Regions from separate parts of the Homo sapiens genome. Here all the other regions are reported to be linked to region 3. The links are microRNA targets in miRTarBase. Many come from high-throughput screens and were not tested one by one. Region 3 holds a microRNA gene; each other region holds the end of a gene's coding sequence.

Region 1 (3,239 bases), not on the chromosome of region 3:
AAATAACGCCTAAAACTGAAAAATCAATAAAGTAATATAAGCATGTTATTTAGCAATTTGGAGGTAAATACTGAAAAAAAGCTAAAACTTTTGAACACCTTCATTTCTGTAAGTTGGGGTACTAAGACAAGTTTTATCCAATACAAACTTGATTTTGACTGTAGAAACTAGTCTTTGTCCCACAAACAAAGTTTATCAATATCTCTTCAAAGATGTTCTTCACCTGATCATCACATTGGTTATGATCCATAAGGCAGAAGGAAACTTTTCAGCATAAGAAACTGAGTCATTAACCAGCAATTTCCAAATACTAGAAATTGCAGTATTTGTATATCATGACATCCCTTTTTTCCCAGAAGGGCTGGATGAAATATACTTATTCTATGGCAATTCAAAATTCAAGCTTTGAAGTTTCTCAGCCCTCAGTGTTCCCATTTCAACTACAGAGATTAATACAAAATCAATAGAGAACCTACAGCAATAATAAGAGAGGCTTAAGGTTGAGTTTAGAAGTAGGAGGAAGCCACCTGGCGACTGTCAACCTCACTGTGCAACAACCTCCCCTGGGGAGCTTTTAAAAAATACCCTGGTCCCATTTCTGAAATTCAGATTCAACTGGCCTGGGGTAAGGCCCAAACACCATTATTTTTAAGGTCCCCAAATGATCCCACTGTGCTGCCAAGATTGCTTTTCACAGAGTTGAACTACTCTACGTATTAAGGACAACATTTTTAGGAACCATTACGAGGCAGCAAGGTGGCAGGGGCTGAACGGCAAGGTGGGAAACTGGGTCGCTTGAAATGGCTGAAGGACATTTAAGAGGGCAAGTTGATATTTAAGCAATTGAATTAGCCTCCTGTTTGTCTCCAAAACTGAGCAGGTCACACAAGTGCCAAAGGTGGAGGGGTTTTTGGTATGAAAAGCAGAGAGTTTCAGGGAGGAGAAAGTCACGTGATGGAAGTCCTGAGAGGGCAGGGGTGTTTGTGAGCTAGCCATGGGAATGCGGGATGGCATCTGTGACACCTGAATTAGGGTAGTAACTACACAGCGAAGGGAGTGAAGTCCACACGCGTGAGGTTTGCTGCTCACCGTGCTCAGTCTCTCGGCCTGAGGTCACCACCTTAACTCCCTTATCCATATCCTGGCTCTCCTTTAATATTTTAAAACTTTGACCTGTTTACACCATTAAAATTAAGGCTAACTGAGCCTAACCTCTTCACTTTAATTCTGATAAAATGAATTGCTTAGTTGAAGTCATCTACAGCTCATTCACACTCTTCCAAGTATTTTTTATTTAAAGATGCAGGCTGAATAGATTATAAATGCATCATTTCTTCCTTTGTTTTTTTTTTTTTTTTTGAGACAGTCTCGCTCTATAGCCCAGGCTGGAGTGCAATGGTGCAATCTTGGCTCACTGCAACCTCTGCCTCCGGGGTTCAAGCAATTCTCTTGCCTCAGCCTCCTGGGTAGCTGGGATTACAGGCACCTGCCATCATGCCTGGCTAACTTTTTTATTTTTGTAGAGATGGGGTTTTACCATGTTGCTCAGGCTGGTCTTGAACTCCTGACTTCAGATGATCTGCCCGCCTTGGTCTCCCAAAGTGGAGGGATTACAGGTGTGAGCCACTGCACCCAGCCTAAATGCCTCATTTTGACCTGTCATTTCACTTAATTGCAAAACAGGATAAAATCTAATGTGTCCAACAGTAACACAAAAAAGATTACAAAAAAGATTTAACCATGACCCACATATCTAACGTTAAAAAATCATTCGTTCTCATTACCATATAACGTTAGCAATATCTACTAAATTTAGTAGTACTTAATTTCACATATATACATCATAAAAAAGATAAAATAATTGCAAAAGCATGAACGAATGTGACAAAGAGATGTTTAGCTTTAAGAAAATTAAGCCAGCAAAGAGTTTTTACGGGTGTTCATTTATTGACTGCTGGGAATACAGCCTATTGAGAATACATGACATGCATTTGGTGGAGAAATCAACTAAATCTGAAATGAAGCCATTCAGTAAGCCTGCTGTGAGTTAATAAGGTAGCACAGATTAGATCTAAGGACATGGTGGGGGCAACTCAAACAGCCACTCACAATTGTTATTAAGATTCCAGCTACAATTTCTTTTGGAACTTATTTATTCTTAATTACTTAGGAATTACCAGGAAAGAGGGAAAATCAATCTGCCTCTTTACCTTAAATTAATGCTAAGAGGGATACTGTGAATCACTAAAAAACTCTCCCCAAAATTATGTTCTTACTTCAAATCCTTTAAGGCAATTCTATTTTTACAAATTCTTCAATTTCTATGCCTCAGGATTATTAGCAGCTAAGCAGAGTTAGAAAAGATTAATAACTGATACAAAAGGCTATTCATTTGATTCTAGTGTTTACTGCTGAATTATACTGTGTTCTAATATGAGCAGATTTTTATACGATATTGCCAATTTCTTCCCCCAAGATTTTTGTTTTAATTCATTGATGCAATAAAATAAATCAAAGAATTCAAGGTACACTTAAAAGGACAGAAAGATAAGTTACTGGAGTATCTTACACCATAATCTAAAATTGTTGAATTATACATACATATAACTTGAATAAAATGAATAACTTGGATAAAGTGAGTAAAATGCTGAAATGTATCCCTAACTACAGTTTCATGCCAGGTATTTTCCCCGAACTTTGTTTCCCGAACTTAAGAAAAAAATGGATATTTTTTCTTAAGATGACAACCTTAATATCACTTGATGTTCAGGTGATTTGAGATAGTTTTTATGGTAGTAGAAAGAAAAACAGAAAGAGAAACCCCAATGAAACAAAAAAAGGAAGATTCTGGCTTTTTGTTTTCTTTTTTAAAGAGCCTGTTCCTTTCATAATCTTTCCTCCACGCTTCTGGAGAAAATGGTTATGGCGTGCAACGCTGGACAAATCGAGGGTATAAGCACACGTCTCGGATGTGATACCTATTCAGAATCCACGTTAAGAATCGTTCCAAGCCCAAGCCATATCCTCCATGGGGACATGTACCGTATTTTCTCTGTTTAAAAAAAGAAAGAAAGAAAGAGGAGTAAATACTTAAGTTAAAACTTTCATCTAAGACAGTTAAAATTTTCCACCATGAAAGGAGTTAGCTCACTGTGGTTAAGAATTCAACTATGGCCAGATTCAGTGGCTCGTGCCTGTAATCCCAGCACTTAATCTCTATGCCTTCATGAACCATGCAT
Region 2 (3,257 bases), not on the chromosome of region 3:
TGTACCTCAGCCTCCCAAGTAGCTGGGACTACAAGTGTGCGTCACCACACCTGGCTAATTTTTGTATATATATATATATATTTTTTTTTTTTTTTTTTTTTTAAATTTTGGAGAAAGAGTCTTGCTCTGTCGCCCATGTTGGAGTGTAGTAGTGCAATCTCAGCTCACTGCAACCTGCACCTCCTGGGTTCAGGTGATTCTCCCACCTCAGCTTCCCAAATAGCCAGGATTACAGGCACCCATAACCAACGCCCAGCTAATTTTTGCATTTTTAGTACAGACGGGGTTTCACCATTTTGGCCAAGCTGGTCTTGAACTCCTGACCTCAGGTGATCCACCTGCCTTAGCCTCCCAAGGTGCTGGGATTACAGGTGTGAGCTACTGCACCCAAATAAGAGTATATATATATATATATATTTTTTTTTTTTTTTTTTTTTTTTTTTTTCCTGAGACGGAGTCTTGCTCTGTCACCCAGGCTGGAGTGCAGTGGCGTGATCTCGGCTCACTGCAAGCTCCGCCTCCCAGGTTCACGCCGTTCTCCTGCCTCAGCCTCCCAAGTAGCTGGGACTACAGGCGCCCGCACCACGCCAGGCTAGTTTTTTGTTATTTTTAGTAGAGATGGGGTTTCACTGTGTTAGCCAGGATGGTCTCGATCTCCTGACATTGTGATCAGCCCGCTTCGGCCTCCCAAAGTGCTGGGACTACAGGCGTGAGCCACCACGCCCGGCTAAGAGCTTATATTCTTAAATTTTGAGTAATTAAAGGGCTCTGGTCAACTGCTTGAGATTTAGTGTCTAAGGATACCTATTTAAAATTAGAGCACAGCTTTTGTCCAATAAAATGCAATATATCTAATTGAACTGACACCGATATCTAGTTAACCTGCCTTCAACAGGCTTTCATACCTGTTACTATGTCACCTTTGGCTGTTTCCAAAATTAGCTTTACTTTCCAGAGACTAAATCCTGTATTAAAAAACAACTGTAGCTGGGCATGGTGGCTCATGCCTGTAATCCCAATGCTTTGGGAGGCCAAGGCAGGATTGCTCAAGGCCAGAAGTTCGAGATCAGTCTGGGCAAAATTGGTTGAGAGTCTATCTCTACCAAAAAAAAAAAAATTAGCTAAGCATGGTGGCATGCAACTGTAAGTCCTAGCTTCACAGAAGGCTGAGGTGGGAAGATCCCTTGAGCCCAGGAATTTGAGGATATAGTGATCTGATTGTGCCACTGCCCTCCAGCCTGGGCAACCAGAATGAGGCCCTGTCTCTTGAAAGAAACAACTTTTAAGAGTTCTCTAAGCTTTCAAATAACAAGCAGTTTTGGTGATTTCAAGAGACCTTTTTTCAGGAATTTTTGAATTAAATCACCCAAATAAAAACAGGACCTGTTGTTTTTAGAAATGGAGTCTCTATGTTGCCCAGGTTGGTCTGGAACTCCTGGGCTCAAGTGATCCTCTTGCCTCAGCCTCCCTCAGTGCTGGGATTACAGGTATAAGCCACCGCACTGGGTCTCTTTTTTATTTTTTTAGTTGTTAAGTGGCTAATTTCATTATAGTCTTGCCTAAAGATGGGCTGGGACCAGAGAAGTTTATGAGGTTGTCACTGATAACTTCCCACCAGAGATCGTTCACCCTGTCTCAACCAGACAAAATAACACAAGTCAGGGGGCGCTGGTTAGATCAGGATTTCTTTTTATTCCTCGTTGGTTTAAAATGGCTAATCAGAATAAAAAATAAAAGGGCCTCTTTGTGGAGGCTGGGATCTCCCCTATTTAGAGGTTAGAACCCAGGTATCCCCTCTACCCAGCACCATAGTGAGGTGGGCTGAGGGGTAACCCCCAAGGGACAATCGGAGGGGCCTAGGCCTGCCACTCCTTCTCTCTATCCCCCGTTTTTGGCATGTGATGAAAAATATTGCTTTTTGGATTCTTCTCTCCTGGCCTTGGATTTTAAAATCAAGTTAACTGTGTAAGCTAGGGGAGGCTCCAAGGGGCCAGTAGGAGCACACTCTAATCCCTCTCCCCCAAGGAGGGGATTATCCAATATTGTTTGAGCTAGGCCAAGTTATTTTCCTGATCTCCCACCACCACCAGTGTCTTGAAGTTTTGACCCCTTTCCTAGGGAAACTAAATGCCAATGAGCCTAGAAAACTAATTCTCCTCTCCAAGTCCTTCCCTCTTGTGACCAAAATTCCAGACTCACCTCTCCCCAGGCTTCTTCCTAATCACACTTAGCACCAGCAGAGGATGCTATTTCCGTAGTTAGTAACTGGGACAAATGAGAGGGAACCACAGGAAAAAGACTGACGTCTCCCCTCTTTTCCTGCTGGTCTGAGGAATGGGAAGAGTAAGATCCCCCTCCGTATATGTATCCCTCCCTCATTTTCCCATCCCAGGATAGATATATAATTTCTTTGATATTTATAATATATATATATATATATTATATGTACACACACACCTGGTAACGCAGAAGAGGAAAAAAATAGAATCCGTAACAATAATAAAAAAAATTATTTCTGGTTTAAAAATGATCTGGTTCCCTCCAGGGCGAGCAATTGCACAAATGTCCACTGAGTCTGGTCCAGGGATCAAGGAAGGGAAGGTCTTAAAAGATAAAAGGGGGGGTTGCTACCCCAGTCTCAGGGCCCCAACTCTCCGACTCCCCAAGCCTACTGCATTTTAGAAAACACTCCTCATCCTCTTGGAATCGGTGGTTTAAAAAATGTCCATGCACGGGAGGGGAGCCCCTTGAGGGAAGGAAGGTGGCCACCTGGGGCCCTTTGGTGTAGGCGCAGAGGCGTTGGGGAGGGGAGGTGCCGAAGGCTCACACCGAAATCTCATAGGTGGTACCACCAACCCCTGACACCTTCTTGACTCCTCCCCTCGTGGGGCTACTGAGAGGTGGCTGGCCTGGGCCAGGGGAGGCTGAGCCTAAGCTCTTGGGCTGCCCGTTGGATTTGCTGTAGGTGGTCTTCAGCTGTACTTCATCTCTGGAAAGAAGAGACAAGACGTAGGTGTCAGGAAATGGGACAGAAAACATTGGAAAGGGAGACAGTTTCAAAGGTTCAGAGAAAAAAATGATGTTCTTTTCTATATCCATACTTTCTTACCCAAACATTCCCCTTTATTGCCCTGCTTAAAATAAGCCTGATTCCCAATCTCTCCTATGTACTACTACTCTCTAGTAACAGCTATCACATGTACTTACTCCCAAGCAAATACTTTTAGGAAGATAGCATTATGGAAAAAGTATTAATC
Region 3 (3,257 bases):
AAATCTCACAGGACCTATAAAACAAAAATACAATTTAAAGACAAACAAGTTATACAGGCAACCAACAGCACAACAAATGGGATAGTACCTCACATCTCAATACTCACGTTGAATGTAAATGGCCTAAATGCTCCACTCAAAAGATACAGAATTGCAGAATGGGTAAGAATTCACTAACCAAGCGTCTGCTGACTTCAAGAGACTCACCTAACTCATAAGGACTCACATAAACTTAAGGTAAAGGGGTAGAAAAAGACATTCCATGCAAATGGAAACCAAAAGCGAATAGGAGTAGCTATTCTTATATCAGACAAAGCAAACTTCAAAGCAACAGCGATTGAAAAAGACAAAGAGGGACATTATATAATGATGAAAGATGTTGTACAACAGGAAAATATCACAATCCTAAACATATATGCACCTAACACTGGAGCTCCCAAATTTATAAAACAACTACTGCTACCTAAGAAATAAGAGAGACAGGGCCGGGCGCGGTGGCTCACGCCTGTAATCCCAGCACTTTGGGAGGCTGAGGCAGGCAGATCACGAGGTCAGGAGATCAAGACCATTCTGGCTAACACGGTGAAACCCCGTCTCTACTAAAAAATACAAAAAATTAGCCAGGCATGGTGGTGGGCGCTTGTAGTCCCAGCTACTCGGGAGGCTGAGGCAGGAGAATGGTGTGAACCTGGGAGGCAGAGCTTGCAGTGAGCTGAGATTGTGCCACTGCACTGCAGCCTGGGCGACAGAGCAAGACTCTGTCTTAAAAAAAAAAAAAGAAAAGAAAAAGAAATGAGAAAGACAGTAGCACAGTAATAGTGGGGGACTTCAGTACTCCACTGACAGCACTAGGCAGGTCATCAAGACAGAAAGTCAACAAGGAAACCATGTATTTAAACTATATCCTAGAACAAAGGGACTTAACAGATATTTCTACCCAACAGCCACAGAATATACATTCTATTAATCAGTTGTATGGAAATTTATCCAATGTAGACCATATGATAGGCCACAAAACAAGTCTCAATAAATTTAAGAAAACTGAAATTATATCATGTACTCTGTCAGACCACAGTGGAATAAAATTGGATATCAACTCCAAAAGGAATTTTCAAAACCATGCAAATACATGGAAATTAAATAACCTGCTCCTGAATGATCATTGGGTCAACAATGAAATCAAGATGGAAATTTAAATATTCTTTGAACTGAACAATAACAGTGACACAGCCTATCAAAATCTCTGGGATACAGCAAAGAGGAAAGTTGTTCATAGTCTTAAATGCCTTCATCAAAAAGTCTGAAAGAGCACAAATAGACAATCTAAGATCACACCTCAATGAACTAGAGAAACAAGAACAAACCAAACCCAAACCCAGCAGAAGAAAAGAAATAACCAAGATCAGAGCAGAACTAAATGAAATAGAAACCAAAAAATAAATACAACAGATAAATGAAACAAAAAGCTGATTCTTTGAAAAGATAAATAAAATCAACAGACCATTCTATTGATTGGGAAGATCCAAATAAGCTCAATTATAAAACGGGAGATATTACAACTGACACCACAGAAATACAAAAGATCATTCAAGGGTACTATGAACACCTTTACGTTCATAAACTAGAAAACCTAGAGGAGATGGATAAATTTCTGAAAAGATACAACCCTCCTAGCTTAAATCAGGAAGAATTAGGAAGCCTGAACAGACCAATAACAAGCAGTGAGATTTAATGATAATTTAAAAATTATCAACAACAACAAAAAAAAATCCAGGACCAGACAGTTTCACAGCTGAATTCTATCAGGCATTCAAAGAAGAATTGGTACCAATTCTACTGACACTATTCCACGAGATAGAGAAAGAGGGAATCCTCCCTAAATCATTCTATGAAGCCAGTATCACCCTAATACCAAAACCAGGAAAGAACATAAAAAAAAAAGAAAACTACAGACAAATATCCCTGATGAAGAGACCAATATCCCTGATATTTAGTAGACTTGAGCATCTGATTTTGGTATCCATCTGGGGATAGTGAAACCATCCCCAAACGGATACCAAGGATAACTGTATATGTAATATACACACACACATTTATACACACATATATATGTATGCATATGTATATACATTCATTTATTTATTTTCTAGCTCTGTTCATTGAAGAGGCATGAAAAGAATGCCCAACTCAGTAGCAAAGAGCATCTCTAGTGCTCACTGATTTGGGGTTTGAAATATCTTTTCTCAGTAAAAGAAACAAGAGCTTCTTGGGGAAATGGCTAATTCCTGATCTGAATGTCTAAATAAAGCCCTAAATTTATTTAATTAATTCCAGATATGAATGTCTCAAAATAGCTCTAAATTTAGACCATGTACCTTCCAAATAGAGGATATGAAAGGTTAATTAATTTATGTCTTCCTATCCATTATGCTAAAGAACAATCTTAGTTCCTAAATGGACCAAGTATCTTTTTTTACACTTTTACAAATCTTCTAAATGATCCTAGTGGACCACCCCACCACCCCATGCAAACTTAACTATGATAAAAGTTAGGAATTCTGGGAGAGATACTTTTACATTTCATATTTACCAATGACAGACTTGAGCTTAGAGTTGCTGAAATTTGTTCCAGTTTTAAGAAGAAAATATTGATCTTACAGCATTATTCACAAAACCATTTACCTGACAGATACTTCTCATATTCCTAGGTTGGGAGATACAATGCCTTCACTTCTTCTTTTCATGCTAGAAAAATTATCTGCCAGAAGGAATCCAAATAAAACTTTCTGTTGTTAAAAACTACACTCTCTAAGCAGCTCCTGTTTTTGCACTGTGAGGAAAATATAGCTCTCAGAGCTTGACTTCTCTGACATTCTATAATTATTTATAGTATGAATTAAAATCTAGTGCTTTTTTCTTTACAGGGGCTATTTTATTTGTTGTACTTCTGTGAAGGCAGGGAATGAGACAGGGGTGTAGCTCAAATTACCAAAGCATCCCCTTGATTTGGCATTCTTTCTTGAAGGATAGGTTCAGAATTGATTTACCTCAGGGTGAAATACAAGCCTCTTGTATTCTGTGAATTAAAATGGTCCTTGTGCCTCCCTCAGTACTGCTGATTTTCAGTCAAATGTCAGCATTCTTGTTAAGAATAGTGCTAGATTCATATATATCTGTTGCTATGGCTGCATATTTAGTTACATGGTATGCAGACATTAGCCAAAAGCTGAAGTGGCTACTTACCTATCACACAGTGA

Evidence for each region. The annotated mature microRNA hsa-miR-3713 reads GGUAUCCGUUUGGGGAUGGU and lies in region 3 at 2,039-2,058, opposite strand. An mRNA with a match to its seed (bases 2 to 7 or 8) in the 3' UTR can be bound and repressed. Matches are read on the target gene's strand: a 7mer-m8 pairs with bases 2 to 8, a 7mer-A1 pairs with bases 2 to 7 and ends in A, and an 8mer does both.
Region 1: miRTarBase lists NARS1 as a target of hsa-miR-3713. Seed matches in the 3' UTR shown: 7mer-A1 at 2,654-2,660.
Region 2: miRTarBase lists ZDHHC5 as a target of hsa-miR-3713. Seed matches in the 3' UTR shown: 7mer-A1 at 2,364-2,370.

What each region holds. Positions count from the first base shown.
Region 1 is chr18:57,598,732-57,601,970 of GRCh38, forward strand. NARS1 (asparaginyl-tRNA synthetase 1) reads right to left here. Exons shown (of 14, transcript NM_004539.4): 14 at 1,925-3,052. The coding sequence ends at 2,921. Among named protein-coding and RNA genes, the nearest start is that of FECH, 14 kb to the left of the region's middle.
Region 2 is chr11:57,699,598-57,702,854 of GRCh38, reverse strand. ZDHHC5 (zDHHC palmitoyltransferase 5) reads right to left here. Exons shown (of 12, transcript NM_015457.3): 12 at 1,673-2,989. The coding sequence ends at 2,824. Among named protein-coding and RNA genes, the nearest start is that of MED19, 11 kb to the left of the region's middle.
Region 3 is chr15:76,585,448-76,588,704 of GRCh38, reverse strand. MIR3713 (microRNA 3713) reads right to left here and starts at 2,058; the gene lies at 2,014-2,058. All of the region lies in intron 22 of SCAPER (S-phase cyclin A associated protein in the ER), which reads left to right.